Regions from separate parts of the Homo sapiens genome. Here regions 1, 3 and 4 are each linked to region 2. Evidence: fine-mapped expression QTL. A gene starts in region 2. Each other region holds a variant in brackets. All regions are shown on one strand. Distances are between the middles of the regions.

What was found. PIP is the estimated chance that this variant, and not a neighbour inherited with it, causes the effect.
Region 1: its variant is fine-mapped to the expression of DNAH1 in whole blood (TOPMed, PIP above 0.99). The same link has a PIP of 0.9 or more in tibial nerve.
Region 3: its variant is fine-mapped to the expression of DNAH1 in whole blood (INTERVAL, PIP 0.95).
Region 4: its variant is fine-mapped to the expression of DNAH1 in blood mononuclear cells (TOPMed, PIP 0.98).

The regions. Positions count from the first base shown.
Region 1 is chr3:52,283,693-52,291,791 of GRCh38, forward strand. GLYCTK (glycerate kinase) reads left to right here and starts at 4,136. Exons shown (of 5, transcript NM_145262.4): 1 at 4,136-4,184; 2 at 6,612-7,027; 3 at 7,268-7,419; 4 at 8,055-8,099. The coding sequence starts at 6,651. GLYCTK-AS1 (GLYCTK antisense RNA 1) reads right to left here and starts at 6,041. Exons shown (of 1, transcript NR_046719.1): 1 at 4,888-6,041. LOC107986086 (a long non-coding RNA gene) reads right to left here and starts at 4,328. Exons shown (of 3, transcript XR_001740699.2): 1 at 4,141-4,328; 2 at 836-899. RefSeq lists enhancers at 3,721-4,462, 3,768-4,967, 3,794-3,903, 6,707-7,207. The variant A/C (reference allele first, on the strand shown) is at 4,101.
Region 2 is chr3:52,311,280-52,319,382 of GRCh38, forward strand. It overlaps DNAH1 (dynein axonemal heavy chain 1), which reads left to right and starts at 5,040. Exons shown (of 78, transcript NM_015512.5): 1 at 5,040-5,266. RefSeq lists enhancers at 1-257, 2,538-2,737, 5,554-6,492 and a silencer at 6,431-6,660.
Region 3 is chr3:52,416,859-52,424,961 of GRCh38, forward strand. It overlaps PHF7 (PHD finger protein 7), which reads left to right. Exons shown (of 11, transcript NM_016483.7): 5 at 2,975-3,076; 6 at 3,453-3,577; 7 at 4,045-4,204; 8 at 4,790-4,896; 9 at 5,364-5,480; 10 at 5,902-6,023; 11 at 6,233-6,783. The coding sequence ends at 6,459. Among named protein-coding and RNA genes, the nearest start is that of PHF7, 10 kb to the left of the region's middle. The variant T/A (reference allele first, on the strand shown) is at 3,187.
Region 4 is chr3:53,048,464-53,056,566 of GRCh38, forward strand. No RefSeq gene overlaps it. Among named protein-coding and RNA genes, the nearest start is that of SFMBT1, 6.4 kb to the left of the region's middle. The variant C/G (reference allele first, on the strand shown) is at 4,135.

The DNA of each region.
Region 1 (8,099 bases), 28 kb before region 2:
ACACAGCTTTAGTGGCCTCTCATCAGTGCTTGCCTAGAGTCATGCTGAACTGCTTCCTAGTGTTTTGTTTTACTCTCCCCAACTCCTCCTTCCAAGAAAAATAGCTTTAAGATGTTTTATTTTTTTTAATTTTTTTTTTTTTTTTTTTGAGACAGAGTCTCACTCTGTCACCCAGGCTGGAGTGCAGTGGTGTGATCTCAGCTCACTGCAACCTCTACCTCCTGGGTTCAAGCAATTCTCCCACCTCAGCCTTCCGAGTAGCTGGAATTATAGGTGCGTGACACCACATCCGGCTAATTTGTTGTTGTTGTTGTTGTTGTTGTTGTTGTTGTATTTTTAGTAGAAACGGGGTTTTGCCATGTTGGCCAGGCTGGTCTCAAACTCCTGACCTCAAGTGATCCGCTCACCTCGGCCTCCCAGTTTTAAGGTGTTGTACAGCCCTTACATAGGACACAGCTCCACTTTACCCTGCCTCCAACACAGCTGACCTTCCCTCCCACGGAGTAACCCTGCAAGCCCAGGCTGGGCACAGTGGCTTACACCTATAGTCCCAGCACTTTCAGAGGCTGGGGCAGGAGAACTGCTTGAGCCCAGGAGTTTGAGACCAGCTTGGGCAACAAAGCAAGACCCTGTCTCCACAAAAAATTAGCCAGGCATGGTGGTGTGCACCTGTAGTCCCAGCTACTTGAGAGGCTGAGGCAGGAGGATCGCTACAACCCAGGAGGTTGAGGCTATAGTGAGCTGTAATCACCACTGTCCTCCAGCCTGGGCGACAGTGTGAGACTTTGTCTCCTAAAAACAAAAAAAAATTAAAATTAAAAGTACCACTTCTTACCTATCCCAGCAGCTACAGCATTCGGCCCACACAGAAGGCACTCAGGAAATGTCTTGAATTATGTCTGAGGAAGGAATAAATGCATGGAAGGAATATAGCTGACTATAACCAAGAAAAAACAATAAAATTTTCAGTATTTACAACCTCTCCCACATTAAAGAGGGCAATTCCACCTACGGATGCCTTTGTTTTGATGATGTGGTGGGAAATCATTTAGGAGAAGGAATACAAAGTCTCATATTTTAAAAGGAAAAATCCAGGGAGAAGGACGGGTGTGGTGGCTCACACCTGTAATCCCAGCACTTTGGGAGACAGAGGCAGGAAGATGGTTTGAGCGCAGAAGTTTGAGACCAGCCTGGCCAACATGGCAAAACCACTTCTCTACAAAAAATACAAAAAATTAGCTGGGTGTGGTGGTGCACGTCTGTGGTCCCAGCTACTTGGGAGACTGAAGTGGGAGGATCACTTGAGCCTCGGAGGTGGAGGTTGCAATAATCCAAGATGATGGCACTGAACTCCAACCTGGGTGACAGAGTGAGATCCTGTCTCAAATAAAAATATATGTATATATAAGAAAAAGAAAAATCCAGGGAGAGAGCTGGAAGTGGGGGCCAGAGGAAGGGAAAGGTTCATGACAAGAGCACAGCATGGTTTGGAGACCTAAGGAGAGATGTAGCAACTGCCAAAGGGAGCAGGTAGGGGGTGTGAAAAGAAAATAAAATTTTAGGACATTCCCAATTTATAATGTGAAGGAGAAAAGTGAAGCCCTGGAAACTGAGCAGGCATTGCTTTTTTTTTTTCTTCTCTGATGCATGACTGCTGCTTCCTGATCTTTGTATTGAAATGTTATACATTAACCAGGCTCCCTATTCTTCATTCAGACTTAGACTAGATGATGTGGGAGATAGAGACCCTTGTGATTGTTGTCTCTTTACAATAGAATGTTAAGCAAACTCCTTCCAGTATAATCAATAGTAGCCAACCAAATCTTGTATTTATGTTAGCCTTTTTTTGGAAAATGTTGTAATTCTGGTCAGCACTCCTGTTTTTGCCTATATAAACAATCTTTTTTTTTTTTTTTTTTGAGACGGAGTCTCGCTTTGTCACCCAGGCTGGAGGGCAGTCACGCAATCTCGGTTCACTGCAACCTCCCAGGTTCAAGCAATCCTCCTGCCTCAGCCCCACCAGTAGCTGGGATTACAGGCACACACCACCATGCCTAGCTAATTTTTGTATTTTTAGTAGAGACGGGGTTTCGCCATGTTGGCCAGGCTGGTCTTGAACTCCTGACCTCAGGTGATCCACCTGCCTCAGCCTCCCAAAGTGCTAGGATTACAGGTGTGAGCCACTGTGCCCGGCCCATGCCCAGCTAATTTTTGTATTTTTTAGTAGAGATGGGGTTTCACCATATTGGTTAGGCCAGTCTCGAACTCCTGACCTCAAATGATCCCACCTGCCTCAGCCTCCCAAAGTACTGGGATTGCAGGCATGAGCCACTGCACCTGTCCCAAAAACACATTTCTAATGTCAACCTAAAAATCATCAAAAGGTTCGATATCCAGTTAAAAGAATTTATTCAAGCATAAAGTGTGAGGGCAGCCATCCAGGGAAACACAGACACCAAGCAGTGGCAATTAGTGTTCTCCAGCATGGGGAAAGATGAAGGTTGTTTATATAGGCCGGGCGCCTGTAATTGTTTATACGCCTGTAATCCCTGCACTTTGGGAGGCCAAGGGCGGTGGATCACAAGGTCAGGAGTTCGAGACCAGCCTGGCCAACATGGTGAAACTCTGTCTCTACTAAAAATACAAAAATTAGCTGGACGTGGTGGCGGGCGCCTGTAGTCCCAGCTATTCGGGAGGCTGAGGCAGGAGAATTGCTTGAACCTGGGAGGCGGAGGTTGCAGTGAGCCGACATCGTGCCCAGGCTGCAGTGCAGTGGCCGTGAGCTGAGACTGTGCCATTGCAGTCCAGCCTGGGTGACAGAGCAAGACTCCACCTCAAAACCAAGAGAAAGAAATGTGTTTTTGTTTGTTGGTTTTTTTTTGAGACAGGGGCCCAGGTTGGAGTGCAGTGGCGTGATCAAGGTTCACTGCAGCCTCTACCTCCCAGGCTCAGGTGATCCTCCCATCTCAGCCTCCTGAGTAGCTGGGACTACAGGAGCATGCCACCACACCTGGCTCTTTTTTTTTTGGTAGAGATAAGTTTCGCCATGTTCCCAGGCTGGTCTCGCATTCCTAGGCTCAAGCGATCCGCCCACCTTGGCCTCCCCAATGTTGGGATTACAGGCGTGAAACACTGCGCCCTGCCAAGAAACATGTTTCAATAAAATTGTTAGGAAATCAAGTGTGTGATTTGTGATGCAACTCTCTCCTCTATCTCCCTAAGAAAACATCAGTAAAAACAGTGAACTGTTTTGTATTTTTGGAGTCTGATCAGGACTCATCTTATGAATGTGGGAAGGCATCCAGCCAACACAGGGTAGGCCCCGGATGAGAGTAGGGACAGCGAGGTAGGCCCAGAGTCATTAGCGTTTACATGCCGCTTATGTGCTTGAGGATCGCAGAATGGAACTCTTGCTAAGCCAGAGCTGTATTTGGTGGCCCATGGTGGGAGAGGGAAGAACAATAATAAGTTGTGGAATAAAAGCCATGGAGAGGAGCGGGAATTACTTAATCTGGCTCCAGAAGGGGTGAGTTGTGGGGAAGTAGTGATTCTCAGTTCGTTTGCTCAGCCCAGTCAGTGCCTGACACTCAGGGTGCATCTGCTGACTGACCGTACAGGATAAAGGAAGGGAGAGGCCGGGTGCGGCGGCTGAAGTCTGTAATCCCATCACTTTCGGAGGCTGAGGTGGGTGGATCGCTTGAGGTTAGGCGTTCGAGACCAGCCTGGGCAACATGGCGAAAGCCCGTCTCTACTAAAAAATACAAAAATTAGCCCGGAGTGGTGGCACATGCCTGTAATCCCAGCTACTCGGGAGGCTGAGGCATGAGAATCGCTTGAATCCGGGAGGCGGAGGTTGCATTGGGCCGAAACCGCGACTCTGCACTCCAGTCTGGGCGACAGAATGAGACCCCGTCTCAAAAAAAAAATCGGCAATCGGTGAGGCGGGGATTATTACCCTCAATGTAGAGATTTAAAAAATGAGGACTGAAGGTGACTCCTTCCAGGTCTGTCAGTGGCCAGCAAAGAGCCAATATGCTAAACTCTCCCCTCCCGGACACCGGCTTCAGCCAGAGCTCGCACCCGCCTGCGCCGCTCCACCC[A/C]CCCACACTTCCGGCTTCCGCTCCGCCCACCCCCTAGTACTTCCGTTCTCCAGCGCTGGGCACCGCGGCCGGAGCTGTGGGCTGGTAAGTCTGCGCCGCCAGGGCTCGCATGGCCTTCAGAAGCGGTCCCTGGGCTGGGCGATGACGGGTCCTGGTGGCAGCAGGCCCTTCTTTCTCGCATCACCGGGCATTACGCGGCAGCCATTTCCCTCGCTAAGGCCCTACCTTAGGATGACGTCACTTCCGGCCCCCTACTGTCTAGGGAAAGCCGGAAATGGTACCAGCCTTCTTTGATGGCGGGGAGGAGTCAAGACCGGTAGTCTTCCTATTTCCGTTGTTTTGCTCTGGAGCCTCCCGGAGTTTCGGAGAGACCGTGTCTTGGATAGAATTGGAGGACTTAGCAAATAAAAATGCAAAGCGTCCAGTTACATTTTTTTTGAGTTAGAATCTCACTCTGTCACCCAGGCTGGAGTGCAGTGGCGCGATCTCGGCTCACTGCAACCTCCGCCTCCCCTGTTCAAATGATTCTCATGCCTCAGTCTCCCGAGTAGCTGGGATTACGGGCGCCCACCACACCCGGCTAATTTTTGTATTTTTAGAAGAGACGGGGTTTCACCACGTTGGTCAGGCTGGTCTCGAACTCCTGACCTCAGGTGATGCGCCCGCCTCAGCCTTCCAAAGTGCTGGGATTACAGGCGTGAGCCACTGCGCCGGGCCACGTCCAGTTAAATTTGAGTTAAGATAAACGACGAATAATTGTTAAGTCCTAAACATTGTATGCACATACTTATACTTTAAAAATTACTTGTTTATTTGAAATTCAAATTTAACCGGAAGTCCTGTATTTTCTCTGGCAGCCTTAGCATTGAGCGTCCCCCTGTCCTGTGCTCATACCCAGTGGCAAGGCTGGGATCTTCTAGGCTCTTGTCCATCTGGGAAATAGATACAAATTTCATCCAGGCTATAAAGACCGGCTGTCTTAGTTGCTAAGATGCTTTTAGCTCCAAGTCCAATGGGCAAGCTCCAGGGGTCCCCCTGGCCAAAACTGGACCCATTTTCGGAATCCCCATGACGATGCCCTCTGTGTTCCCTTTCACAACAGAAGTCAGGCATGGCTGTCTTTTCTTACCGGAGAGCTGAGAACTAGGCAAGCAAAATGGTCAAAGTCTAGAAGTAACCACCATATTTGGGTGTGGGGTAAACCGGTGTTTGAGATCTGTGTTGCAGTGGACAGTATCAGAGAGCCTGAGGTTGTTAAGGGAAGAGCGTAGTGTTAATCTCACCCCATGTCTCATTTTGCGGATGAGGCCCAGTGAGAGAAATGGAGGTGTCCCAGCCACTCAGAAAGCCTATAGTAGAGCTGGAACCTCAATTCCCAGCCTCCTTACCCTGCTCAGTCCATACTTGCTGATGAAGTCAGCTTGCAACATTTATGGTAGGCATTTATTAAAGTAGATGCAATAGTACATATGTAGTACAGATGAGCTGTTTGGGTCTTTGTTGTTCCTATACCCCTCTACAGCTTCCTGACCTTCGCCCCAAGGCTTCTTTAGCTTTTACTCTGCCCAGTGGGGAAAATGGCTATGGGCTCAGTTATGGGAGCCTGGCCTTTGCCTACTTCAGCCCTTGGGCTCTCACCACTGTGGGTGGTGTGACCTAGGACTTGTTTTTGTTATCTTGGAACCAGAAGGCGTGTTCTTGGCAGGGTTGGGTCTGGCCAACTGTGTGGGTAGAAGGGCATCCTTTTCTGTCCTGCAATTGGGCTTCATGGCACATGGCCTCACATGGTGCCTGGGGACTTTTCTAAGGTTCCACCATGAGCCAGACTTTGCCCTCACTCCTGATTTGAACCTAAACCTCTTGCTGAACTGGTCCTGCATACTGAGATTCCTCAGATTGCTTGCCCTGAGGATGTGTTCTGGGTTTGACCTGATAAACCTGCAGCCTCCTATAGACCCTGACTTCCCAGGCTCCTAATCCCAGTCTCATGAGATAATGAAATAGAGAAGACTGGAGGTCAATGGGCTCAGGGTCAGTTGGTGGGACAATCAACAGCTTCCTGGCAGCAGAGGTGGTAAAGAGGCAAGGAAGGAGTGCCAGAAAGGGGCGTTGCCCCAGGGTAACAGCGCAGAAGTGCAGGGGGTGGAAAAGGGGTGGGATGGGAGCCCACTGGTAGAAATTACTCCCTCTGTCAATGATTAACTCCCAGCCAAAGGGGTGACCTGGGAGGAGGGCCCAGCTAATAGGAACTTTGGACTTGAGGCAGAGTATCCAGAGGGCCGGCATGTGGTCTGCAGAAGAGGAGGACGTGGCTGGGTGGCAGGGCTGGTCTCCAAGGACGAGTAAGATCCTGCAGCTGCAGGCTTCAGGAAGTCTCCTGGGGCTATCAGATGGCTCCTTCTTGTAGCAGCAGCTGTGGGGTCCACTGGCCCTGAGCCCTCAGAGGGGCGGCCGTGGGGGACCTCCTGTCTTTTGCCTTGCAAGGGCCTCAGTTGTGCTTTTTCCCTCTAGGCAGCCATGGGTGCCAGGCAGTGCTGAGAGCAGTGGGGCATGGCTGCAGCCCTGCAGGTCCTGCCCCGCTTGGCCCGAGCCCCCTTGCATCCACTCCTCTGGCGGGGCTCAGTGGCCCGTCTGGCCAGCAGCATGGCCTTGGCAGAGCAGGCCAGGCAGCTGTTTGAGAGTGCTGTAGGTGCAGTGCTGCCGGGCCCCATGCTGCACCGGGCACTATCCTTGGACCCTGGTGGCAGACAGCTGAAGGTGCGGGACCGGAACTTTCAGCTGAGGCAAAACCTCTACCTGGTGGGCTTTGGCAAGGCTGTGCTGGGTATGGCAGCTGCAGCTGAGGAACTACTGGGCCAGCATCTTGTGCAGGGCGTGATCAGCGTTCCCAAGGGGATCCGTGCTGCCATGGAGCGTGCCGGCAAGCAGTAAGGAGCCATGGGGGCCTGCCTCCCTCTATCTATCTGGAGGGAAACCTGGGCCCAGACACAGGCTGAATCGGGCCTCCCCTCCCCACCCGCTTCCCATTTCTCCTGGATCTGGCCTGGCCCCAGGATGCATGTCAGTGGGCATCTTCGTTCATGCCCCCATCACCTGTAAAGTTGAGAGATCAGGTGGGAGGAGAGGAGTCCACCCCATCTCTTGCGTGCTGACCTTTCCCTCCCCAGGGAGATGCTGCTGAAGCCACATAGCCGTGTCCAGGTATTCGAGGGTGCGGAGGACAACCTCCCGGACCGCGATGCGCTGCGGGCTGCACTGGCCATCCAGCAACTGGCTGAGGGACTCACAGCTGATGACCTGCTGCTCGTGCTGATCTCAGGTGTGGTACCACATTGGCCCAAGACTGTTGGTGGGGGGTGCACCACCTGATCTCTCAGGTCTTCGAGAGATCAGGTCTGAGCCCCCGGGGTCACAGGGTAAAGTTAGGAGCAAGGGAGGTGGTGAGGAGCCTGGATGGTGACTCCTGGGTTGCCTTGGGCTAGTCGTCTGGCCTCCCCTGAGCTGTGGAGTCCTCCCCCTGAGCTGACCTTTTCGGTGACAGTGAGAGGGTGCATGGGGAGCACATAATGCAGGGCCTGACACATCCGTAGAGTCCTTGGAAAATGTCACTGCTATTGCTGCTGTCTGTACTAATGTCACCTGGGGCTAGGCCCTCAGACCTCATGGAGTCCTCTCCTTGATCTTCCATTGTGTGCCCCCTGCCCTGCCTCCTGTTCTAGTCTCTTAAGGAGTAGTTAGTTCTTCCGGTGCCTACTGGGACCTGGGGTACCCCAAGGCAGGGGCAACCTCAGGTGGCCAGGATGTGGTGACTGTACACATATTGCATATCCACAGGGGGGCACCCTAACCCCACCTTTCCAGCCCCCTTTTTCTAATGTGGGCTTGTCACCCCTGCTTGCCTGGTTCCCTGGGTTGGGATAGCCCCTCTACCTGATACCCTCATTGTCTTGAGAGGTGGGGGTTCAGCTCTGCTGCCTGCCCCCATCCCACCTGTCACAC
Region 2 (8,103 bases):
CACTGTGGGTGTGACCGGGACCGGGGCCTAGCTTTGCCCTATGCCTCAGTTTCCTCAGTTGCACAAAGGAGTTAAGTTCTGGGTTGGCTCATGCTTTTTTGCCTCCCAGGGCAATGGCGCACCCGGGGAGAGGGGTCATCTGCAGTTGCAGTCACAGATGGGAAAATGAGGCCCAGAGATGAGACAGTTTACTCTGGGGCCAGCAGACTCAGTTCTGAGCATGTGGCCAGCAGCCAGGAGAGGAGACTGCAGGGGGAAATGCCAGCAAAGCCCAGCCTTTTTGCATCTCCAGTTTTCTTTAACCTGCCCTCCAGCCCTCCTTTGCCTGAGTTCACAACTCAACCCCAGCTGCGTGTATCCTGACGCAAGGCCCCCTTCCCTCCACCCAGCAATTATGGCTGGTCACAAAAGCTGGACCGTGACCAGACAAAGGGACAGGGATGAAAGTGCTGGTTGTCATGGCAACCTGGTGGGGTTGCTGGGACCCAGGGGAGGGGCTGGCTATGTGCCTGAGCCCAGGCATCAGGACGAGACCTGTGAGCATGAGCCAGGGCAGCCTGACGGCCCACAGGGACCCCCCTCCTGCTCTGGGCCCGCCAAAGCCGGGCATACAATGGCAACCTCAGCCCCTCCATGGGCAGCACCTGCTCCCTGGGCCTCCCCCAGTGGCCCCATTATCCTGCACCTGCTGACCACCGCCCCCCCAACCTGCTTCCCAGCCCAAGCTCCCTCCCCAGGGCAGGCCCTGCCCATCCTCAGGCCCACCTGCCTTCTCTGAGAGCCAGCCAAGAGGGCTGGGGAACCAGGAGGGATAGCAGGGAAGGCCCTGGGCAGGGACCGAGGGTCCAGCTGCCAAGCCAGCTCTGCCTGGCCAGCAGTGTGTGTGCCTGCAAAACAAGGCTTTGCTCCAGGACCTCAGTCTGCTCACCTGAAAACTGGGAGCATCCAATCCTGCCTTCAGGGTCTGCAAGGGCCAGTTTCTCTCTGCTTGGAGGGAGGGCTGAGGCCAGGTTGGGAAGAGAACAGACGGGGGTATCTTGGGTCATATTTTCAGGGCCGCATCTGTTGGACCACATGGAGACCTGAGTCCTTACTGTACACTTCAGAGTCACTGCTTAGGTTTGGAGATGACATTTTCCAGAGGCCTCCAAGGATACAGAGGAAGTGGGCAGGAGACCCAGTATTGCCACGCTTTTTTTTTTTTTTTTTGAGATGGAGTCTCTCTCTGTCACCCAAGCTGGAGCACAGTGCCACGATCTCGGCTCACTGGAACCTCTGTCTCCTGGGTTCAGGCAGTTCTCCTGCCTCAGCCTCCCATGTAGCTGGGACTACAGGGATGTGCCACCACGTCTGGCTAATTTTCGTATTTGTTTTGTTTTGTTTTGTTTTTTGAGACGGAATCTTGTTCTGTCGCCCAGGCTGGAGTGCAGTGGTGCGATCTCGGCTCACTGCAAGCTCCGCCTCCCAGGTTCACACCATTCTCTTGCCTCAGCCTCCCGAGTAGCTGGGACTACAGGCGCCCACCACCACACCTGGCTAATTTTTTGTATTTTTAGTAGAGACGGGGTTTTACTGTGTTAGCCAGGATGGTCTCGATCTCCTGACCTCGTGATCTGCCCGCCTCAGCCTCCCAAAGTGCTGGGATTACAAGTGTGAGCCAGCATGCCCAGCCTAATTTTTGTATTTTTTAGTAGAGACAGGGTTTCACCATGTTGCCCACTGGTCTTGAACTCCCGAACTCAAATGATCCGCCCACCTCGGCCTCCCAAAGTGCTGGGATTACAGGCATGAGCCACCACGCCTCGCCAGTGCCAGGCTCTTGAGTGGCCTATCAGGAGTACTGGGGAAAGAGAAAGACAGTGGGGTGGGTACTCTGCAGGAGGAGAGTGCTCCACAGGGGGCAGCTGGAGGATGGCTGGGGGCCCTGTTGATGGACAGTCCAGTTCTTCCATAAACAGGGAAACTGAGACTCTAGCAACTATCAGTGTCTGGCGCAAAAGGTAGGCCTGCCTGCCAGCTCCCTGATGCCCCACCTCAGGATGGTGGAGTGGAGGAGGGACAAAGAGTGAGAGGAGTGTGAGGCCAGGTAGATGCCCCTCCTCCTCCTGTAAAGGGAAGTGGGATTCTCATGGCAATGGGTCTTTGTCTCATGGTCTTTTCCTTGTGGCTCCCTATATCCTGCAGGACAGCCCCAGGTTCCTGTCCCACTCTGCCATGACTTTGGGTGAGGCCCCTCCTTTCTTGCCACCTCAGTTTGCAGACCCAGAGTATGGGAGCAGATTGCCAAGGAAGTTGTCAGCTCTAACTGCCACCCTAGCTGTTTGAATGTCCCTAGGCCAAAGCAGGCAGGCCATTTGCAAGGGGTGATGGGGAGGAGGGCTGCCCCACCTCTTTGGGAGTGAGGGATTCCATCTCTTTGGAACAAACCCTTCCTTACTGACCTGCTGGGAGTTTTTTACACATTCGCTCCTGGAGGTCTGGCAAGGGCAGTGCTTTTGCCAGGAATGGAAGTATTTGGGGCAGGAAAAGTCTTGGTGTCCCTCACACCACTCTGTACTGATGACCCCACCGTGACACTGGGTAAGGTTTCTGTTCCTCATTGTGCAGAAGAAAAACTGAGGCCTAACAAAGGAAGGGACTTGCCCGGTGAGTCATCAGAATAATCCAGGCCTCCTGCCCCGTCCAGAGCCCTTTCTAGGGGTGGATGAAAGGTCAGGCTGGCAGTCTGGTCCCCAAAGTGGCCAGCCTTGGGGGATGAGTGGATGGGAGGGCTCAGCTAAGCCTCAGCAAACCCAGGCTCCCTGGAAGGTGGGAGTGGGGGCACTTGGTGGGTCACAGGGCCAAGTTGATGAAGTCACCCACTCTGCCAAGATATTACTCCAGCTGACGCTCACCAAACTCCTTGGGACTGAGGAAAAATCAGAGGTGCTCAGAGCCTAATTATAATAAACAGTTTCCTGTGCAGCTCCTGGAGCCCCCCTGGGAAATGTCCTGTGGAAGATGTCTTTGTCTCAGAGCCTGCCATCTGGCGCTTTGGCCCAGGAAGGTGGGGACCAACAGGCATCCCCCCCTTGGGCCGCTGCTCCTGGAGCGCAGAGCCTCAGCATCCTGCACCCTCAGATGGAGGTCAGAGAAAAATAGGCTGGGGGAGAGGAGGTGAGGGTGGGATCATGTGGGGTCATGTGCAACTGGGCTGGTGTCAACAGCCACTATCTTTGAGGTGATGGCCCCGATGTGGGTTGCTCTATCTTCCAGTCATTTCTATGGGTCTTTCCTGGACTGACGCATGGGCAGGGCTGCTGAGAAAAGCTGTGCCTCTGCCCCAGCACCCCCTGACCCCATCCATCAAGTCCACCCTCCAGTTGGGAGAAACAGCAGTGACCATCACATGGTAGGGAGTGAGTCATCTACCAAGTGGTACTGACCATGGTCCTCTGGGGCCCTGAGGAGAGTGTGTGTTCTGTTGGCCAAGGCACTCAGGGAGTGTGTCCTGAGAAGTAGCCCAAGATGGCATGGAAGATCATAGAAAAACAAAGAGGGAAGAGGCTCCGGCAGGGAGGCTGCACAGGAGTAAAGGTGGGCAGGGGATTAGGTGGGGGCTGTGATGGATGAAGATTGTCTGTTCATGGGCCAGTGGTCTTCAGTCCACCAGCCCCGGAGAAACTCTGTTCTACTCCTTGCTTGAGCTCTGGGCTTTCAAGGTCTTGTCTGTCAAGGTGATCATGTGGATCAAAGGAGAATTAAATTTTCTCCATTTTTATTCATCAAAGAAATGATTATGCTGGTCAGAACTGCTGAGGGCAGCTGAGCAATGGCAGGGAGGCTTATGTCGGGGAGGCCTGGGGAGGCAGTGAATCGTAGACCTCACCCATTCCCTTCTCTGACACCCCCCGCCCCCGATGCCTGCAACTCACTTTCTTGTGGCATAGCTCAGAGCTCCAGGCCTAGAAAATCAGAGGAAGATCCTGGGGGCCCAAGAGGGAGGCTGGGGACAGGTGGGGAGCGGGTAGCTCAGCCACTCAGTCTGGATGCCTGTCACCTTCCGTTCTGGCTGGCCAGCCACATGAAGGGCCCATTCTGCTGCCCATTCACAAGGGGCTTTCATCTCTGCAGCCAGTGAAGCATTGCTCCCATCTCAGCCAGCAAGGAGACACAGGGGAGGGGGTGTGCAGACTTGCCATGACCTCAGACTCCATGCTGGAAAGGCATGGCCCTGGGCCAGGGCATCCTAAGCAGCCCATCTGCCCCAATCCCCCAGCTTCCAGGCCACCAGAGTCCTCAGCAAGGGGGATCTGAGTAAGAGATGGGCAGTGACTCCCCAACTCTTGTAGAAACCTAGTCCTCCCATTTCAACAAGGGTAAGGCTGACCTCTCTTCCAGCTTATTCAGGGCAAAAGATGGCCCTCCCATCACAAGAGGGGCAGGAGTCCAGTGGGTCATGGCTCAGCCCCCTGCTCCTTTCCCAGGGAGCAAGGTAAGTATGGTGGCCTTCAGGACAGGGCAGGAAGACCAAAGCCTGAACCCTTGCGCAGCCATGGGAGAAGACAGCACATTAGAGGGTAGCCCCTGAGACCCAGGAGAACAGGGACTGACTCACGGTGTCCTTCCAGGGAGGAGGGAGGCAGTCATATCCACAGCCCGCCCTTGAAGAGGGGCGAAGTGGAGCTGGCAGGGCTGCTGGTAAAAGCAGCACCCCCGACCCCCACCCCTCAAGTCCATTCTCCAGTTGGGAGAAACAGCAGTGACCATCACATGGTAAGCAGTGAGTGGTTCTGTGAGCTGGGCCTCCTGAGAGTGGACCCTTTCAGCTGTGGCCTGTCCATCTGTCCAGCAGCCACAGCCCCTGTGATGTCACCAGCCCACTGTGTTGCTTGGCAACTTTCCAGGATTAGCATTCTGCCCCTCTCATCCCTGACATCCCACCATAGGCTGATGTTGCCATGGCAACCCGGATAGATGCTGCAGCTTTTTGGACAGCTGTACCTAGTGTGGGAAGTGCCAGGCAAAAGCAGGGAAGCAGGTGCCTCTCTACAGGCCAAGGGGGGTACCCAACCTATACGCAGACCCATTGAGCAGCCAGACTGCCCTAAACAGGGCTATGGAGTCCTTGTCCCTTCTAAGAGCTGTGGACACCTTGCCTCCAGTTCCCCTCACAGTCCTTTCTTCCTTCTGCAGTGATCACTGAGTACCTGTGTGAATGCCAACAAGAAAAATAAAACCACAGTTTGGATTCAGGAAAGGTTGCACCACCATCAGGTCTTGAAGGGTGAGTAGGAGTCCGCCAGATGCAGGAGTGGATGGAGACAGGTTCTAGACAGAGGAAGCAGAAGCCTGTGCAAGGGCTGAACCACTGTCTCCAGGCATAGATTACACCCTGCCTCTAGGTTCCTCATGGCCTGGCCTCTCCATCTTTCCCACTCAATACACTTTATGGTGGGGATAGGGTCCAGTTCAGTTCCAGACACTTAGTGCCCAGCAACAGGCCTGGCACCAAGCCAGCACGACTAAAATGCCAAGTAAAATTCAACATCAGGGCCTATGACCTCCCCTAGTACTAACCGTCTCAGCAAGTCTGTTTCCCCATCTGTGAAATGGGGCCAGTTTTGAGAAGGCTGTGGGCAGGGGTTCTCAGGTACAGATGGGGTGATGTTTTTCTTTTGGTTCTTTTGGTTTGTAAACCACTTCTTTCCCTTACAGAAAAAATTGGAAGACTAGTACATGGACATCTGTGACCTTCAGATTCCCTAATTGTTATATTGCAGCACTTTTGCTTTATCTCCTCTTTGTCTTTTTATCTAGCTATGCTTACCTATATGTATAATTTTTGCTGAACCATTTGAAAGGAAATTGTAGCGGACATTCTGACGTGTTTCTTCAAACACTTCAGGCCACGTCAACTAAGGACAGTCTGATACAACCACAGTAGCATTATCACATCTAAGAAAATTAACAATAATTCAATATTCAGAATAGGGCAGGAAGATCAAAACCTGAACCCATGCCAGGTGCTGAGAGCAGATGAGGGGCATCAGAGGGTGGGCGCCCGAGCCGAGGGGTGTCGGGCGCATCCGCTGCCCAGCGGAAGCGGCGGCCTGAGTGGAGTCACCGTGCAATGGGTGGGTGTGGCTTTGTGAGCCAAGCCCCAGGAGAACCAGAACCCACCTTTTCCTCAGTGCCCTGACCAGCTGTCCCGCAGCTGTGGCTTAAATGCCAACTTCCAGTTCGTAAATTTCTTCAATTATTCCTCCCCAAATTATTTACATATGTATATGTATTTAAATCAGGATTTAATCAAAGTTCTCACGCTGCATTTAGCTGTTTCGCTGCTTACTCTAAAAGGGCACAGGAGGGAAGATGGGTGGGTAATGGAGCCTAGAAGAGTGACGCTCCCTGGTCGGCCCTAATCCTGCCGATCGGGGCATATGCTGGAACATCCCAGTCCCACTGTCCTGGGCGGAAGTAACCGAGACCTGGAGTTGGTGGGTAGGTAAGGGTTCAGGCTGGGGAGGTTCGCGGACGGAAGCTCCCGCCCTGCGGTGCCGGATGGCCCCGCCCCTTAGCAACGGCCTAGCGTCCCTCCCTAGAGACGGGGCTGATGCATCCCCGCACTGCTCGGTGGAACCGGTACGTCGGTGAGGCGGAGGGGTTGCGGGGCCAGCGCGGGCAGCGGGACCTCGAAAAGGCGCGGAGGGCGAGTGGACGAGGGTGGGGAATGGGGTCTCCCAGGAGTCTGGTTGCTGAGCCTTGGCCAGGGGGAAAGAAGGGAGGTGCACTTTATTTTATTATTTTTGAGACGGAGTCTCGCTCTGTCGCCCAGGCTGGAGTGCAATGGCGCGATCTCGGCTCACTGCAACCTCCACCTCCCGGGTTCAAGCGATTCTCCAGCCTCAGCCTCCTGAATAGCTGGGATTATACGCACCCGCCATCATGCCGGCTAATTTTTGTGTTTTTGTAGAGACGGGGTTTCACCCTGTTGACCAAGCTGGTCTTAAACTCCTGACCTCGGGTGATCCGCCCGCCTGGGCCCAAGTGTTTGGATTACAGGCGTGAGCCACTGCGCCCGGCCTGGAGGTGCACTTCAAACAGCCTTGCAGTGAAGTCCTGTACTTGCCAGACCAGTTTTTGGGCCCCATCCCCATGCTGAGCACGTGGCAGTCCCATCAGCTACCCAATCCTTCTCCAGATCCCTACCAGAGTTGTTACAGAGGTCAACTTCATTCCTTTCTCCACCTTGCCCATCCATTAGTTCATTTGTTCACACAATCATTCAGCAAGTACTTTCTAGGCACCAGCTGTGTGCCAAGCCCATGCCAGCCTCATGCTAGGTGCTAGGTGCCAAGTTTCCAGAGATCAGCGTTACTTGAAAATGCCTACACAGCTGACAGGAAAAACAGATGTGCACATGTAATACAGGGAGAGGTACACTGGAGGGGAAAGACACAGTTGTGGAGGGCAGTTTGCATCGGGTGAATGCTTCAAAACGGTGGAGAGAACCCCAAGCCTGGGGGAGCAATAACCATTCATGGTGTTGTTTGCCTGGTCGCCCCAAGGGCAGATACTTCCCAAATCCCTTAAAGTCGCAGATCCATTTGTCTGCTTATGCAGAACCCCGGGGTGTGAAATGGATAAAGGTGCAGGATCCTTGTTGAATCGGGTGAGTGGCATAGAAGCCCTCCTGCTTATGTGGCTCCCCACAGGCACCCACTTTGCAGAATCTCAGCACCCGGTTGGAGAACCACTGTTGTGATGCTAGAACATGGATCTTTGGGTCAGCCAGAAGTGAAGACCTCAGTTTCCATTCTGGTTCTGCCAAGTGTTTGGTTGTGTGATCTTTGCAAGTTTCTTTACTTTCCTGGGCCCTAGTTTCCTCAGCTGTAAATTGGCAATAATAGTAGTATCTGCTGTGAGGTTGGAATACCCCTATTCATCTGTGTCTCTTCAGCCAAGTGCTTGGCTACTGGTTGAGTCAAGTGGGGTTGAGTGTCAGTGAATCCAACCAGAAGCTTCCTCTGGCTCAAGCCAATAGGGCTCCCAGGTGATCTGAGTGGGGAGAAAGAAGAACTTGGGTTCAAATTTCAACTGTGGCTCTTGCTGGCTCTGTGA
Region 3 (8,103 bases), 110 kb after region 2:
TTTTATTATTGAGTTGTAGGAATTGCTTATATATTTCAGATACAAATTCTTTTTCAAATATATGTATTGAGACTATTTTCTTCCTAGTCTTTGGCTTGCCTTTTCATTTTCTTAATGGTGTCTTTCAAAGAACAAGTTTGTAATTGTAATGGAGCCCAGTTTATCCATTTTTTTCTTTTATGGTCAGTGCTTTTTGTGTGTTGCAAGAAATCTTTACCTACCCATAGAATTGCCTTGGTGCCTTTGTCAAAATCAATTGACCATATATCTGTGGATCTGGATAATCTATTTATGTCATTGATCTATGTATCTATTCTTACACAAGTCCCCACTGTCTTGATTATTGTGGCTTTATAGTATATTGAAATTCAGTATTGTTAAGTTCTACAATCTTTTCCAAGATTGTTTTGACTATCAGGTCCTTTCTTTATAAAGTTTATATTAAGCTTGTCAATTTTTCTTTAAAAAAAAAGTCTACTGGGATTGTGATTGGGATTGCATTGAATTTATAGGTCAATTTGGGAAGAATTGACAAAAAATATTGAACCTTCCAATCCATGGACATGGTATATTTTTCCACTTATTTGGGTCTTTTAAAATATATCTCAGCAATGTTTTGTTGTTTTGGTGACAAAGTCTTGTACATCTTTTGTTAAATGTATTCCTAAATATTCTGTGGTTATGCTATTGTAAATAGTATTTTTATTTCATTTTTAAGTTTATTGCTGGTATATAGAAATGCATTTTATTTTTGTATATTGATTTGTATCCTGTAATCTTGTTAAATTGAGTTTGATTAGTTGTTTTTTTATTTTGTTGTAAATGCCTTGTTACAGGATTCCCTATGCACATAACCATGTCATGTGTGAATAAAGACAGTTCTACTTCTTTCTCTCAATCTTTGCCTTTTATTTCTTCTTGCCTTGTTGTATTGGCTAGGACCTTTAACCTAACATTGAATAGAAGTGGTGTGAGTTGTTATCCTTGTCTTGTTCCCAACATCAGGGGACAGCATCTAGTTTTTCACTATTAAAGTATGTTAGCTCTAGGTTTTTTTCATAGATGTTTTTATCAGGTTGAAGATCCCTTTTATTCATATATAGTTTGCCCAGAGTATCATGAATGGGTGTTGAATTTTCTCACTTTTCCTGTATTTATTGAGATTATCTTGATTTTTCTCTTTAATTTTGTTAATGTAGTTTGTTACATCAACTAAATGCTCTAATGTTAAACTAGTCTTGCATTCTTGGTATAAACTCTACTTGGTCATGATGTATTGTCCTTTTTATATGGTGCTGGATTCAGTTTGCATCTGTTTTGATTTTTATATCTGTGCTCATGAGAAAGATTGGTCTGTGATTTTCCTTTCTTGTAAGTCCTATCAGGTGTCAGGGCTTAGTTATAATTTTGATGTATTTACAAGCATATACATTTTTTACATAAAAATTAAACATTATACAGAGTGCTTTGTATCTTGGCTTTTTTCCATCATATATATTTTGGAAATCTTTCTGTATAGAACATATAGATATAGTTTTTTCTTTTTAGTAGCTAATTTATTAAATCAATACATGCTTATTGCAGAAAACATGAATGATACTTAAAAATATGAAGAAAACAAATCACTCATCCCAAAGCCCTGAGATAATTAGTTTTAAAATATGTGTTTCAAAAGTTCAATTCCTTCCCCCATAATACAGAACAACAACAATCAAGAGATATTAAAACCCTGTTTTTCTTCCTGTATTACTCTGAGAAGAGTATTTTCTCTGTACTAAGAGGTGATGCAGCAGGAAGGGTAAGAATGGGGATTCCATGGGCCTGGGTGTGAATAGCCAGCTCTGCTCCTCCTTGTCCTATAACCCTGGGAGGCAGTGTCACTTGCCACACTGCACCTCAGCGGCCTCCTCTGTAAGATGAGCATCATAATAGCATCTGCCATTACAGGAATTTTTTTTTTTTTTTTTGAGACGGAGTCTTGCTCTGTCGCCCAGGCTAGAGTGCAGTGGCCTGATCTTGGCTCACTTCAACCTCCGCCTCCCGGGTTCAAGCGATTCTCCTGCCTCAGCCTCCCGAGTAGCTGGGATTACAGGCGCGCACCACCATGCCCTAGTTTTTGTATTTTTAGTAGAGACAGGGTTTCACCATGTTGGCCAGGCTGGTCTCGAACTCCTGACCTCAGATGGTCAGCCCTCCTCGGCTTCCCAAAGTGCTAGGATTACAGGTGTGAGCCACCGTGCCTGGCCAAGGATTGTAAGCATAAAATGAGTAAATACAAAGGAAATGTTTCCCCCAAAGTCCCAGCACACAATAGCAGCCCTCAGTAAGTGAGAGGCAGCCTAGAGCAAAAGTAAGAGTCCAGGTTCCAGAGTTCTGTGGCCTTGAGCAGGTCGCATCATCTCTCCTATAAAATGAGGACAATAATAGTACCTACCTCCTAGGGCTGTTGGGAGGACTCAATGAGTTAATATTTGAAACCACTTAGAGTATTCAACACATGGTTGGTGCCATGTAAGCCTTCATTAAATAAATTACCCTGTCAATGCATATATATTCCACCAAGCTCTGTTCTTTTTTTTTTTCTTTTTTGAGACAGAGTCTTGTTCTGTGGCCCAGGCTGGAGTGCAGTGGCACGATCTCGGCTCACTGCAAGCTCCACCCTCTCGGGTTCACGCCATTCTCCTGCCTCAGCCTCCTGAGTAGCTGGGACTACAGGTGCGTGCCACCACACCCGGCTAATTTTTTTGTATTTTTAGTAGAGATGGGGTTTCACCGTGTTAGCCAGGATGGTCTCCATCTCCTGACCTCGTGATCCGCCCGCCTCGGCCTCCCAAAGTGCCGGGATTACAGGCATGAGCCACCACACCCGGCCCAAGCTCTATTCTTTAGCTCTCTTACCCTGTCCTTCTCCTCACCTCACTGCACTGTTTCACTGATCATCATTGTTAACAGCCTGGTTCTACTGCCCCCGCAGATCTTATCTAGTAAGCTGCCTCAGAGGGGCCAGTCCAACAGAGGCTTCCATGGATTTCTGCCTGAAGACATCAAAAAGGAGGCAGCCCGGGCTTCTAGGAAGGTTAGAATCTCTTGAAATGAGGACCTTGGGGTAGGCCTCTTTTCATACCTCACCCATCATTCCTGTTTCTGTTCTCTTCCCTACTTCCTAGTTTAGATGTCAAAGGACTC[T/A]TGGATTTTCCAACTAGTCCTTAAGTCCCATATTCCTCTGGGGTATGGGTGTCCTAAGTGAGAAGAGGGAGAAACATCTTGAGAAAATAGGAAAGAACTCAGTGCTGCTTGAAGCTCAGCTTCCGGGTGCCCCAGAGCATTCAGGACCACTGAAGATAGGGAATGGCTATTATTTCACAAAACTTCCATTTAATAGAAAGATGTGCTACACTGTGTGTGTTTGCATTTCTTGGGGTCCTGAGCACTGTCTGGGAACTCATTTGCAGATCTGCTTTGTGTGCAAGAAAAAGGGAGCTGCTATCAACTGCCAGAAGGATCAGTGCCTCAGAAACTTCCATCTGCCTTGTGGCCAAGAAAGGGGTTGCCTTTCACAATTTTTTGGAGAGTACAAGTGAGTGAGGGAAGGGAAAAGTCTGGCTTCCTTTTTGCAACTTATTATTCAGCCACTAATGAAATCAGAGTCCAGTTCTCACAAGCAGGCCTGTTTTGATTCACCAGTGAATCTGTCCCTCCATTCAGTAATAAGAAACAGTGTCTTGACTTGGAGATTTCACAGGGGGTTCTTCTTGCTTCCTGACCCCTCCTTAAATTACAAACAGCTGGGGTTCTTAGACAGCTGCTCAGCACTAAGTGGGGCTTTCAGGAACGAGAGGCTATGGAGACAGTCCTGGGAACTTTGCTCAGTAGGTGAGCAGCCGTGAGAAGGCATGTGGCAGTTCTTCACTCTGCCTCTCCTCTTCCCCATGTGTGGAGGTTCACTGGGCACCAGCCTGGGTGGCTGGCTGCCCCTCCTAGAGCGGGCCATTGGGAAACTACATCAATGACAAACCAGAAACCAAGTCTGTTTACCTGCCACAGATCATTTTGTGACAAACATCGCCCAACACAGAACATCCAACATGGGCATGTGGGGGAGGAAAGCTGCATCTTATGTTGTGAAGACTTATCCCAACAGAGTGTTGAGAACATCCAGAGCCCGTGTTGTAGTCAAGCCATCTACCACCGCAAGTGCATACAGGTGGGGCTTTTTCCGCCCTGGGTCCCTTCCACCATTGCCCTAGTTCTCTGCCTGGAACCAGAGAACCCTGGGAATGCTCAGGTGTGCCTCAGCTTTGGTGCTCCATGCTGGAGGCCTGTATTGAGGGCTGGTTTCAGGCAGTTAGAGGAAAGTCAGTCCAGTCTGTGGTCATTCCTGGCCTATAGGACCTCACACATGATAAGATTTAGAATAAGCAAAATCTTCAGCATTGCTAGAGCAAATGGGCTCATCCCAGAATGAGCTGAGAAGCCTCTATGTCAGCCTCACTTCCTGGGATGAAAGAAAAGGGAAACATGTATCCAGGTGGCTGACCCCTACTCAGTACTGCCGAGCCCCATGGTCAGAGATGACAGCTGAGGCACTCCTGGGAATTCTCTTGAAAGTATTTTGGTCCCAGGTCTGACACCTGGATTTGCAGCCCTCACCCTAGCCCACCCAAACTCCTTTTCCTGTACCCTCAAACTCTCTTAGCAACATCCTCTTTGTAGGGGTGAGGGTGGGAGGAGAAAGAAGGTAGTCAAAGGGTTTTTACAAACACAGAGCTCTTCCCTGTTTCTCTTACAGAAATATGCCCACACATCAGCAAAGCATTTCTTCAAATGTCCACAGTGTAACAATCGAAAAGAGTTTCCTCAAGAAATGCTGAGAATGGGAATTCATATTCCAGACAGGTAGTGGGAACCCCAAAGCAGGAACTGAGCCAGGGAGTGGGTTGCCTAGATTTCTAGAGAGGAGGTGAGTGAGAGGATAGTTCAGAGAATGAGAGCAGCAGAGGCACTGATAAGAAGGAAGGGGAGGAGGGAGTGCTTTTCAATTATCAAAACAGAAGGGAGGGGGAAGAAGTTTGCGGGGGAATGGGGTGCTTGTTGCTGAAAAGGGCATTTGGGGAATCAGAATTCCCTGGGGGGTTGAGTTATTGGATTCCAGAGTGGAACTAAGGAACCTGCATGCATGTTCCATTCATCCTGCTTCAACCCTCTCCCACTGCCAGGCCACTTGGCCAGCCTTGTTGGAAGTGTTCAGGCAGCCTACTGAACTCTTGCTGTGCTTAGCTTGGGCTCTTCCTAACTCCTCCCTGATGGACAAAAGTTTCACCAACCCATTATGTTCTTATTCACTGTTTCTTCTCCCACTGCAGAGATGCTGCCTGGGAACTCGAGCCAGGGGCTTTCTCAGACTTATATCAGCGCTATCAGCACTGTGATGCCCCCATCTGTCTGTATGAACAAGGCAGAGACAGCTTTGAGGATGAAGGGTAGGGGAAGGCTTCTGGCTAGAAAGAGCTCTCATCAGTGCTATCTTAGAGTTAGACCTTGGCACAGTTATTAGAAGTAAGAAATTCACTCTTGTATGCAGACCTTAGGATAAACACGATTGCTAAGTCTCATTCTTGACCAGCCCGACTCACTTGTGTGCACGTGAACACGTCTCCCCTGCAAGGTCCGCTTCACCTTGTGCCCAGTGGAGAGACATTCAGAGCCAATTCCTTTCCTAATCTACCTTTCAAGGGGTTACGACTGATGGCAGGCTTCTGGGATCAGCACTCATCCTCTCTGAGCCATACATTCATCTTGGGTAAAATGTGCTGTAAAAAATGCCTGGCCCATAGCAAACATCCAAGCATGGCAGTTGGTGTTCTGTATGTCTCCACAACCCTTCCTGGGCTCTTCCTCTAGGAGGTGGTGCCTCATTCTGTGTGCTACATGCGGATCCCACGGAACCCACAGGGACTGCTCCTCTCTTAGATCTAACAGTAAGAAATGGGAGTGTGAGGAGTGTTCACCTGCTGCAGCCACAGGTGAGGCTGGAGGGATGGGCCGGCCTCAGAGCAAGGAGGGGGCTGTAGGGACTTGTGGTGCCTGGGAAAGGAGGAAGACATCCCACCAGAGGGGGATTAATAGTTGGTGCCTTTGACTTTGGAAGGAAAGTAGCTAGAGAGGAGCTTAAGGACCTGTGCCTGGGAGAAGCAGAGGCTTGAGTTTTCCTCTCCTGCCTTTCTCTCACCAGACTACATACCTGAAAACTCAGGGGACATCCCTTGCTGCAGCAGCACCTTCCACCCTGAGGAACATTTCTGCAGAGACAACACCTTGGAAGAGAATCCGGGCCTTTCTTGGACTGATTGGCCAGAACCTTCCTTATTAGAAAAGCCAGAGTCCTCTCGTGGCAGGAGGAGCTACTCCTGGAGGTCCAAGGGTGTCAGAATCACTAACAGCTGCAAAAAATCCAAGTAACACCTTCTGAGTAGCTGCTGTCCCACACAATAGGGTATGAAGCTGCGCTCCTCCATCGGGTTTGGGGAGGGAGCACTCTGGGACTGTGAGACAAGGAAGCAGGGCCAGCAGTGAGACTATGAGCCAAGCAAAGAGAAGTCTCAGTGGAGCATGAGGAGGGAGCAGTCCAGATGCCAACAAGGAAATGCGTTTATGGCTACAAGAGTGCCTCTGCTTTCTCCTCCTCTCCTCCCACCAAGGATTCTTCCACCTTAATCTTGTTTTCATATGCCTCTTCTTACTTCACCCATGTTTGTTGTTATGCAAATAAAGGTTTTCTCTCCATTGGTGTCTCCTTATAAATTCATTCTGAAATTTGTCTGGGTAGTAAAGATTCTACGGGGTAGAGTACGAGAGTAAGAAAACTCACCCTCCTAATCCATAAAATTTAGGGAATTAATGTAGAACTTTTAGCTTAGAATATAGACATGTTTCTTTGGAGGGAAAGAAACCTGTTTATACGGAAATTGGCATTACAGAGGTAGAGAATCTTCATCAATCATTGTGCAAATAATAAGTACACAGGTTCTCATTAGGGAGGTGAGCCAGCATAGCAGTCCACACTGGGTGGAGAATAGGCCCTTGTTGCAAGGCTTGGGGTCCTGGACTCAAACAGGTCAAGGACTACCATGCTTATACATGGGGCATAAGGGACTCCATTCTCTCCTGACTGGTGTGGGCTTCAGCACACCTCCACAGCATGAGTGAGCCCAGTCAAACCCTCACTGCCCGGTGGTTCGAGCATTTCCGTCCAGAGTTTAAATATGAATTTGCATGCCAGGACATTCAAATTAGGCAAGGTGGCCGGGCGCAGTGGCTCATACCTGTAATCCCAGCACTTTGGGAGGCCGAGGCGGGCAGATGACTTAAGGTCAGGAGTTCAAGACCAGCCTTGCCAACATGGTGAAACCCCATCTCTACTAAAAATACAAAAATTAACCGGGCACGGTGGTGGGTGCCTATAATCCCAGATACTTGGGAGGCTGAGGCAGGAGAATCGTTTCAGTCCGGGAGGTGGAGGTTGCAGTTAGCTGAGATCGCGCCACTGCTCTCCAGCCTGGGTAACAGAGCAAAACGCTGTCTCAAAATTAAATTAAAAAAACATAATCTTCCCGTTTTCGTTCACCTCAGATAATTGTATCACAATTTTTGTTAACTTTCAATGTTTATATTATTATGATGCTAGAAATACTGTTTACCACTGAGCCAGGCAGTACACTATGATTACCTTTCCTCTTTTGTACAATGTTTTTTTCTGAAATTAATAATTGCTTCTTTTTTGGTATATACCTATTGCTAATTCTTCTGAAATGTTGCAAATGATCAACAAAATGTCTCAAAATGCAATTTTCCTCATAGACCAGGCATCAGATCACTATCAGCTGGACTTCTTTTCCTGAAGACCTGCCTCCCAGAGCCGCCGCCTCCAGTGCTGGCTGCTCCTAGAGCTCCTGCACAGCTGTCCTCCTAGGGCTTCCCACAATTATGCCCTTTTTCTTCATTTCCTTTCTCTTGGGTTTGACCACCCAATGCTATCCTTGCTTATCCGGGCGTCCAGGGAAATTTTGTCAGAGCTCTGCAAGTAACAGGAACATTTTTTAATTG
Region 4 (8,103 bases), 740 kb after region 2:
TACAAAAAAATTAGCCAGGCATGGTGGCGGGCGCCTGTAGTCCCAGCTACTCCGGAGGCTGAGGCAGGAGAATGGCGTGAATCTGGGAGGCCGAGCTTGCAGTGAGCTGAGATCGCGCCACTGCACTCCAGCCTGGGCGACAAAGCGAGACTCCAACTCAAAAAAAAAAAAAATTCCTTTGTTTAGTAAAATCTACTTTTACGCTAGACTTTCTATTTTGATTAATATATTTCTGAATTCTCCATTTCCTTCCTTAGACCTCAGTTTGAGCAAATACCATATGAATCTAAATATTGGTTCTTTGGAATAGGTTCTAACATATGAAAAGGCTTGATTCCCTCTCATGCCCTTATGAGGTCTTCTTTTTTCAGATTATCAGTTGATATCCACACTGGTTTATGTGTCTCTACACATCCTAGGATAATCATATAAGGGTTAAGAGGACTGGCTTTGAGGACGGACCATCCAGGTTCAACAACCAGCCCTGTGACCTTGGCAACTTATCTATCCCCTCTGGGCCTTCAGGTCTTGGTCTGTAAAATTAGGATAAGAGTAACAGCTGCCTCTGGCCTGGCGCAGTGGCTCACGCCTGTAATCCCAGCACTTTGGGAGGCCGAGGTGGGCAGATTACGAGGTCAGGAGATCGAGCCCATCCTGGCTAACATGGTGAAACTCTGTCTCTACTAAAAATACAAAAAAATTAGCCAGGTGTAGTGGTGGGCGCTTGTAGTCCCAGCTACTCGGGAGGCTGAGGCAGGAGAATGGCGTGAACCCGGGAGACGGAGCTTGCAGTGAGCCAAGATCGTGCCACTGCACTCCAGCCTGGGTGACAGCAAGACTCCAACTCAAAAAAAAAAAAAAAAAAAAGATTAACAGCTGCCTCACAAGCTCAACGCCTAGGACATAGTAAAAGTTTTGTAAATGTTAGCTATTGTTAATGATTTTTTTGAGACAGAGTCTCGCTCTGTCACCCAGGCTGGAGTGCAGTGGTGCAATCTTGGCTCACTGCAACCTCTGCCTCCTGGGTGCAAGCGATTCTCCAGCCTCAGCCTCCTCAGTAGCTGGGATTACAGGCGCACGCTACCACACCCGGCTAATTTTTGTATTTTTAGTAGAGACGGGGTTTCACCATGTTGGTCAGTCTGGTCTCGAACTCCTGACCTTATGATCCACCCGCCTCAGCCTCCCAAAGTGCTGGGATTACAGGTGTGAGCCACCGCACCCAGCCTTTTTAAAATTTTTTTTGAGAGAGGGTCTCACTCGGTCACCCAGGCTGCAGTGCAATGGTGCTATCATGGCTCACTGCAGCCTCTACCTCCCAGGCTCAAGCAGTCCTCCCGCCTCAGCCCCGAGTAGCTGGGACTACAGGTGTGCACCACCATGCTCAGCTAATTTTTGTATCTTTTGTAGAGACAGGATTTTGCCATGTTGCCCAGGCTGGTCTTGAACTCCTGGGCTCAAGTGATCCACCCGCCTCAGCCTCCCAAAGCGCTGGCCACCACGTCCGGTCCTATCTTTCAATTTATTCAAATATTGTAAAACTCTCTTGCCTTTCTCCAGTGCTCACCTTCATGACCCCTAAGGAAGAAGAACAGAGAACTCAAGGAACAGTTTAAAACTGTCTGCACATCTGACTTGTGTCAGACACTGTGTAGATGTGGGTGTGGGTATGCACATGTGCAGTTGGACAGAATCTCCTTTAACTCTTGCAACATCCTTTAGGACAGGCCGTAACATTCCCTACGGACAAAGAGCAAACTGAGAGCTTCCAGGTCATCCTTAAAGAGAAGCAAAACTTAGCCACAAACCTGGCATGCCAGCTTCTCAACCACGCTACTGGGAAATTCGAGTTGGGGATTGTTGACCGAAGATGCAGCCCCAGAGGCGCACGGAACGAGGGGTAACTTATGGAAAACTGACTTCTGGTCATGACTCACCCCAGTTGAAAGCCTTTCAAGGTTCTCTATTGCACTTTGCAGAAGTCCAAAAGCCTCACTTTGGCCTATAAGGCACCAGGGCCAGGTGCGGTGGCTCAAGCCTGTAAGCCCAAAAGTTTGGGAGCCCAAGGTGGGCGGATCATGAGGTCAGGAGTTCGAGACTAGCCTGGTCAACATGGCAAAACCCCATCTCTACTAAAGATACAAAAAATTAGCCGGGTGTGGTAGCACACACCTGTAATCCCAGCTACTCGGGAGGCTGAGGCAGGAGAATCACTTGAACCTGGGAGGCAGAGGTTGCAGTGAGCTGAGATGGCGCCATTGCGCTCCAGGCTGGGCGACAGGGTGAGACCCCCGTCTCAAAAAAAAAAAAAAAAAGGACTGGCCCTGGCCTGGCGCAGTAGCTGATACCTGTAATCCCAACACTTTGGGAGGCTGAGGTGGGCAGATCACGAGATCAGGAGTTCAAGACCAGCCTGGCCAACATGGCAAAACCCCATCTCTACTAAAAATACAAAAAATTAGCTGGGCGTGGTGGTGCGCGCCTGTAACCCCAGCTACATGGGAGGCTGAGGCAGGAGAATTGCTTGAAGCCGGGGGGGGCGGAGGTTGCAATGAGCCAAGATCGTGCCATTGCACACCAGCCTGGGTGACAAGAGCGAAACTGTGTCTCAAAAAAAAAAAAAAGACTGGCCTGGCCCACCTTCACCTGTCCCATTCAGCTGTCCTACTCACCTGCCTTGCTTGCTGTATTTTAGCTGCACCTGTCTCCTTTCCATTTCATGGGTATGTCACTGTCCTTCCCACTGGCACACTCCCCATCCCACTTCCTGCACCCACCTTTACATAGGTGACACCTTATTGTTCCAGTATCTGCTTAACAAGATGGTCTCCTCAGAGAGGCTTTCCCTGCCCACCCCATCTGAACAGGTTCTCTCTCTCCCCAGTGGTGATATTTCTAATTTATACCTGCATTTGTTTGTCATTTATTTGGGTTCTGTCCCCCCTGTAATCCCACAGATGGACATCAGTCCCCTTGAGCACAAAGACATGCCTGTCTCCATAACCATGAGGTCAGCCCTTTCCCCAAGAGGCAGTGGGAAGACAAGAGGGTGGCTAGTGGGTCATTTGGCAGCATCCAAGACCAGAGGCTGGCACACCCAGGAGGCATCCTGGGCATTCCCAACTTAGTCTCCACTTCCTGCTGGCTTCATGGGTTAGGGGTTGTAACCCTCTGTCATCATTGACCAAGGGGTCAGTGTTCAACCATTCTATATGAACCCCCTATGCCCTGAGGCCTTGCCTGCCCATGAAGCAGGCCTGTTTTCTGCAGGTGGGCATCAACCTGGGGCCTTGTACTGGATGAGAACCTGAGGGCCAGGCCTGGACCCTGGGGACTGGCAGAACCCTTGGCCAGGACATCATGCTGTTTTCAACCCATGAAGAACTGAATGAAATTCCACAAGCCAGCCAGGCCTGCTGTCAGTGATCAGCGGCCCTCCATTGCCACTGACCTGACCAGCCAGCTTCCTTCAGTCAATCCAAATGAGGCCAGTCACATAATGACTCCCTGTGGCTAATTACCCAAGCAATCAGGTGATCCCCACTGTAGAGTCACTGCTCACCCCATGCCATTCTTCACTGAGGTCCAACTGACTATGCTGGCCCTGCTGCCTCGGGAGCACAGACCATGACTCCACATTCTCTGTAACACCTGCCCTGCTTCCCTCCATGTCTTGGCTCCTGCAAACCCTGCTCCACCAGGTGTCCTTCTCACCTACGCTGTGTTGTCAGGGAAAAAACAATGGGTGTGGAGGCAGACAGCTGGAGTCAAGTTCAGAGTTAGTCACTGCTTCTCTATGAGACCTTCTATGGGACCCTTCACCACTCTGGGCTCAGTTTCCTCATCTTTGTAAAATGGGGAGGAAATCAGCTTCTTTGCTGGGTCATAGGAATCCAAGAACAAAATGTGTATAAACATTCTTTGCAAACTGTAAAGCACAACAGAATGATGAGAAATAGTTGTCCTGACCTCAAAGCCATCTCCTCCAGGAGGCCTCCCAAGATTGCTCCCCTTCTTTCTCTGTCTTCCTAAAGCACTTAGCTTGCTTTTCCTCAGTTGCTTACCACAGAACAGGCACTGGCCCTCTTGACCCCGTTTTCTATCCTTGAGTGCCACAAGCCCAGGATTATGTCC[C/G]CATTCATCCCCAAAGACCGCTTCTCTTGGAGAAAATATATTAATGGGCACAGTGTTCCAATTTTATGTTATTGAGCCATGCATTTTTCTTAAATTATTTTGCACCTTCAACTTCTTATCCGCTAATAAGAGGTCACAGGCACCAAATAAGTGACCAAGGACGCTCAGCAATACCGGAAAAAAGAGGGAGCAGTTCTTTGGGTTGGAGGTTGGAGTGTCTTTTTTTTTTTTTTTTTTTTTTTTGAGACGGAGTCTCGCTCTGTCTCCCTCTGTGGATCACTTGAGCTCATGAGTTTGAAACCAGCCTGGGCGACATGGTGAAACCCCACCTCTACAAAGAATACAAAAATTAGCCAGGTGTGGTGGTGCACACCTGTAGTCCCAGCTACTTGGGAGGCTGAGGTAGGAGGATGGCTTGAACCTGGGAGGTGGAGGTTGCAGTGAGCTGAGATGATGCCACTGCACTCCAGCCTGGGCAATAGAGCCAGACCTTGTCTAAGAAAAAGAAAAAAAAATTGTATGAGGAATGTATACAGTGACTGGGACAGAGGACACAAACTGGTAGGCCCTGTGTCAAATGTGGCCCAGATGGCGCTTTGCTGTTGTTGTTGTTGTTTTATTTTGTTTTGTTGCTTTTTTTGTGAGACAGGCTCTTGCTCTGTCACCCAGGCTGGAGTGCAGTGGCACAATCATGGCTCACTGCAGCCTTGATCTCCCAGGCTCTAGTGATCCCTCCACCTCAGACTCCCAAGTAGCTGAGACTACAGGTACGTGCCACCATGCCTGGCTAATTTTCGTATTTTTTTAGAGATGGGGGTCTCACTATGTTGCCTAGGCTGGTCTCAAACTCCTAAGCTCAAGTGATCTGCCCCGCATTGGCCTCCCAAAGTGCTAGGATTACAGGCATGAGTGTGGCCAAGATTTTTTTACAATACTTTTTTTTTTTAGGTATAATTTGCATACAATAAAATATACCCATTTTGGGCTGTGTGCGGTGGTTCACGCCTATAATCCCAACACTTTGGGAGGCTGAGGTGGGCAGATCACATGAGGTTGGGAGTTTGAGACCAGCCTGGCCAACATTGTGAAACCTCATCTCTACTAAAAATACAAAAATTAGCCAGGTGTGGTGGTACACGCCTGTAATCCCAGCTACTCGGGAGGCTGAGCCATGAGAATCCCTTGAACCCAGGAGATGGAGGTTGCAGTGAGCCAAGATCACCCCACTGGCCTCCAGCCTGGGCGATAGAACAAGACTCTGTCTCAAAAAAAAAAAAAAAAAAAAAAAAAAAAAAATATATATATATATATATATATATACATATACCTATTATATAAGTGTAGAGTTCTCTGAGTGCTCACAGAGGTGCAGCCCATGTAACCACCACCACGAAGACACAGAGACTTCTTTTTTTTTTTTAAGGGAGTCTCTCTCTGTCACCCAGGTTGGAGTGCAGTGTTGTAATCTCGGCTCACTGCAACCTCCGCCTCCCAGGTTCAAGCAGTTCTTCTGCCTCAGCCTCCTGGGTAGCTGGGATCACAGGCACGTGCCACAATGCCCGGCTAATTTTTGTATTTTTAGTAGACGGGGTTTCACCATGTTGGCCAGGCTGGTCTCGAACTCCTGATCTCAAGTGATTTGCCAGCCTCGGCCTCCCAAAGTGCTAGGATTACAGGCGTGAGCCACCGCTCCTGGCCAACACAGAGCCTTCTAATGACTCCCCTCACCCATAGGCAAACACTGATCTGATTTCTAGTTTCAAGATTACTTTTGCCTGTTTTTATAAACTTCATCATAGGCCGGGCACAGTGGCTCATGCCTGTAAACCCAGCACTTTAGGAGGCCGAGGGGGGAGGATTGATTGAGGCCAGGAATTCGAGACCAGCCTGGGCAACATAGCAAGACCCCATCTCTACAGAAAATTTAAAAATTAGCCAGATGTGGTGGCCCAAGCCTGTAGTCCTAGCTACTCTGGAGGCTAAGCTGCGAGGATCACTTGAGCCTGGAGGTCAAGACTGCAGTGAGCTGTGATTGTGCCACAGCACTCTAGCCTGGGTGACAGAGTGAGACTTTGACTCAAAAAAAAAAAAAAAGAAAAAGAAAAAAAGAAAAAAAAAGAAAAGAATAAAGAAAGAAAAGACAAGAAAAGACAAGAAAAAAATTTCATCATAGAGCAATACTCTCTGTCTGTTTTTTATTATTATTTTTTGTTCAGCTCCTCCAAGTAGCGATCCTGTCTGGTTGCTTTTTTCTTTGTTGTTGTTGTTGTTGTTGTTGTTGTTGTTGTTGTTTTCGAGACGGTGTCTCACTCTGTCGTCCAGGCTGGAATGCAGTGGTGCCATCTCAGCTCACTGCAGCCACTGCCTCCCAGTTCAAGCAGTTCTCCTGCCTCAGCCTCCCGAGTAGCTGTGATTACAGGTGTGAGTCACAGCACTCAGCTAATTTGTGTGTGTGTGTGTGTGTGTGTGTGTGTGTGTGTGTGTGTGTTTTCAGTAGAGACAGGGTTTCTCATGTTGGCCAGGCTGGTTTTGAACTACTGACCTCAAGCGATCCACCTATCTCAGCCTCTCAAAGTGCTTGCATTACAGGCGTGAGCCCCAGTCCCTGTCTACCTTTTTGTTTTGAGACAGGGTCTCACTTCATTGGTGCAATAATTGTGCACTGCAGCCTCTAACTCTTGGCTTCAAGTGATCCTCCTGCCTCAGCCTCCTGAGTAGCTGGGACTACAGGCATGTATCACTACATCTTTTCTTATTTTTCATAGAAATGGGGTCTCACCATGTTGCCCAAGCTGGCCTTGAACTCTAGTCTCAAGTGATTCTACCACCTCCGCCTCCCAAAGTGCTGAGTTTACAAGTGTGACCTGCTGTGTCAGGCGTCCTGTTTGTTTCTGAGATTCATCCATGTTTCTACATGTATCAGATTATTCCTTTTCTTTTTCCTTTTTCTTTCTTTCTTTTTTTTCTTTTTTTTTTTTTTTTTTTTGAGTTGGAGTTTCGCTCTGTCGCCCAGGCTGGAGTGCAGTGGCGCAGTCTCTGCTCACTGCAACCTCCACCTCTCGGTTTCAAGTGATTCCCCTGCTTCAGCCTCCCGAGTAACTAGGATTATAGGCGTGTGCCTGTCATTACCACGCCTGGCTAATTTTTGTATTTTTAGTAGAGATGGGGTTTCACCATGTTGGCCGGGTTGGTCTTGAACTCCTGACCTCAGGTGATCTGCCCACTTCAGCATCCCAAAGTGCTGAGATTACAGGTGTGAGCCACTGCACCCGGCCTCTTTTTTTCTTTAATGTTAAACTACTCCTTTATTGCAAGGTAAATCATATTATTTCAATCATATAGAATGCCCAGGGGATGGAGATTCAAGAGTTCCCTTTTGTACTGGCCTTCAAAATATTGTACCTACATGAATGTATGCCTTCCAAAATACTTAAATCATATTATTTAATATATTTATACTAGTCTAATAAAACATTACATATATTGTAAAACACAAAATATAGAAATGTTAAAAAGAAGAAGTAAAGAGGAGATAAATACTATTTTTAAATTATTTTGTTTGCCAAAGAAGTATAATCATTTTGCCCCTCATAAAATATTATATTAAATCATGTTATTATATTAAATGATATTAAAGACAATTATGATATTAAAATATTAATAGTATTTTAATGAAATGAATATGATTGAAAATGTTTCTGTTTTTCTATACTACTGAAGTATAGTTGAAGTACAAAAAGACACATATCTATAAAGTGATAGCCCCTCAACCCTACCTGACCCCCAGGCCTTGGAATTGACCTCTCTAGGGTGAAACCTGGGTGATAGCTTATTTTCAACATGGCATCCAGCGCAGGCAAGAGCATTCTTCATGACCCTCATGGCCCTTTTGGAGAAGCCAGGGCAGGAGGTTTGTGAAGAAGGCTGTTCATCTGGCCCTTGGAAGGGACTTGGCAAGGCAGGCCCAAC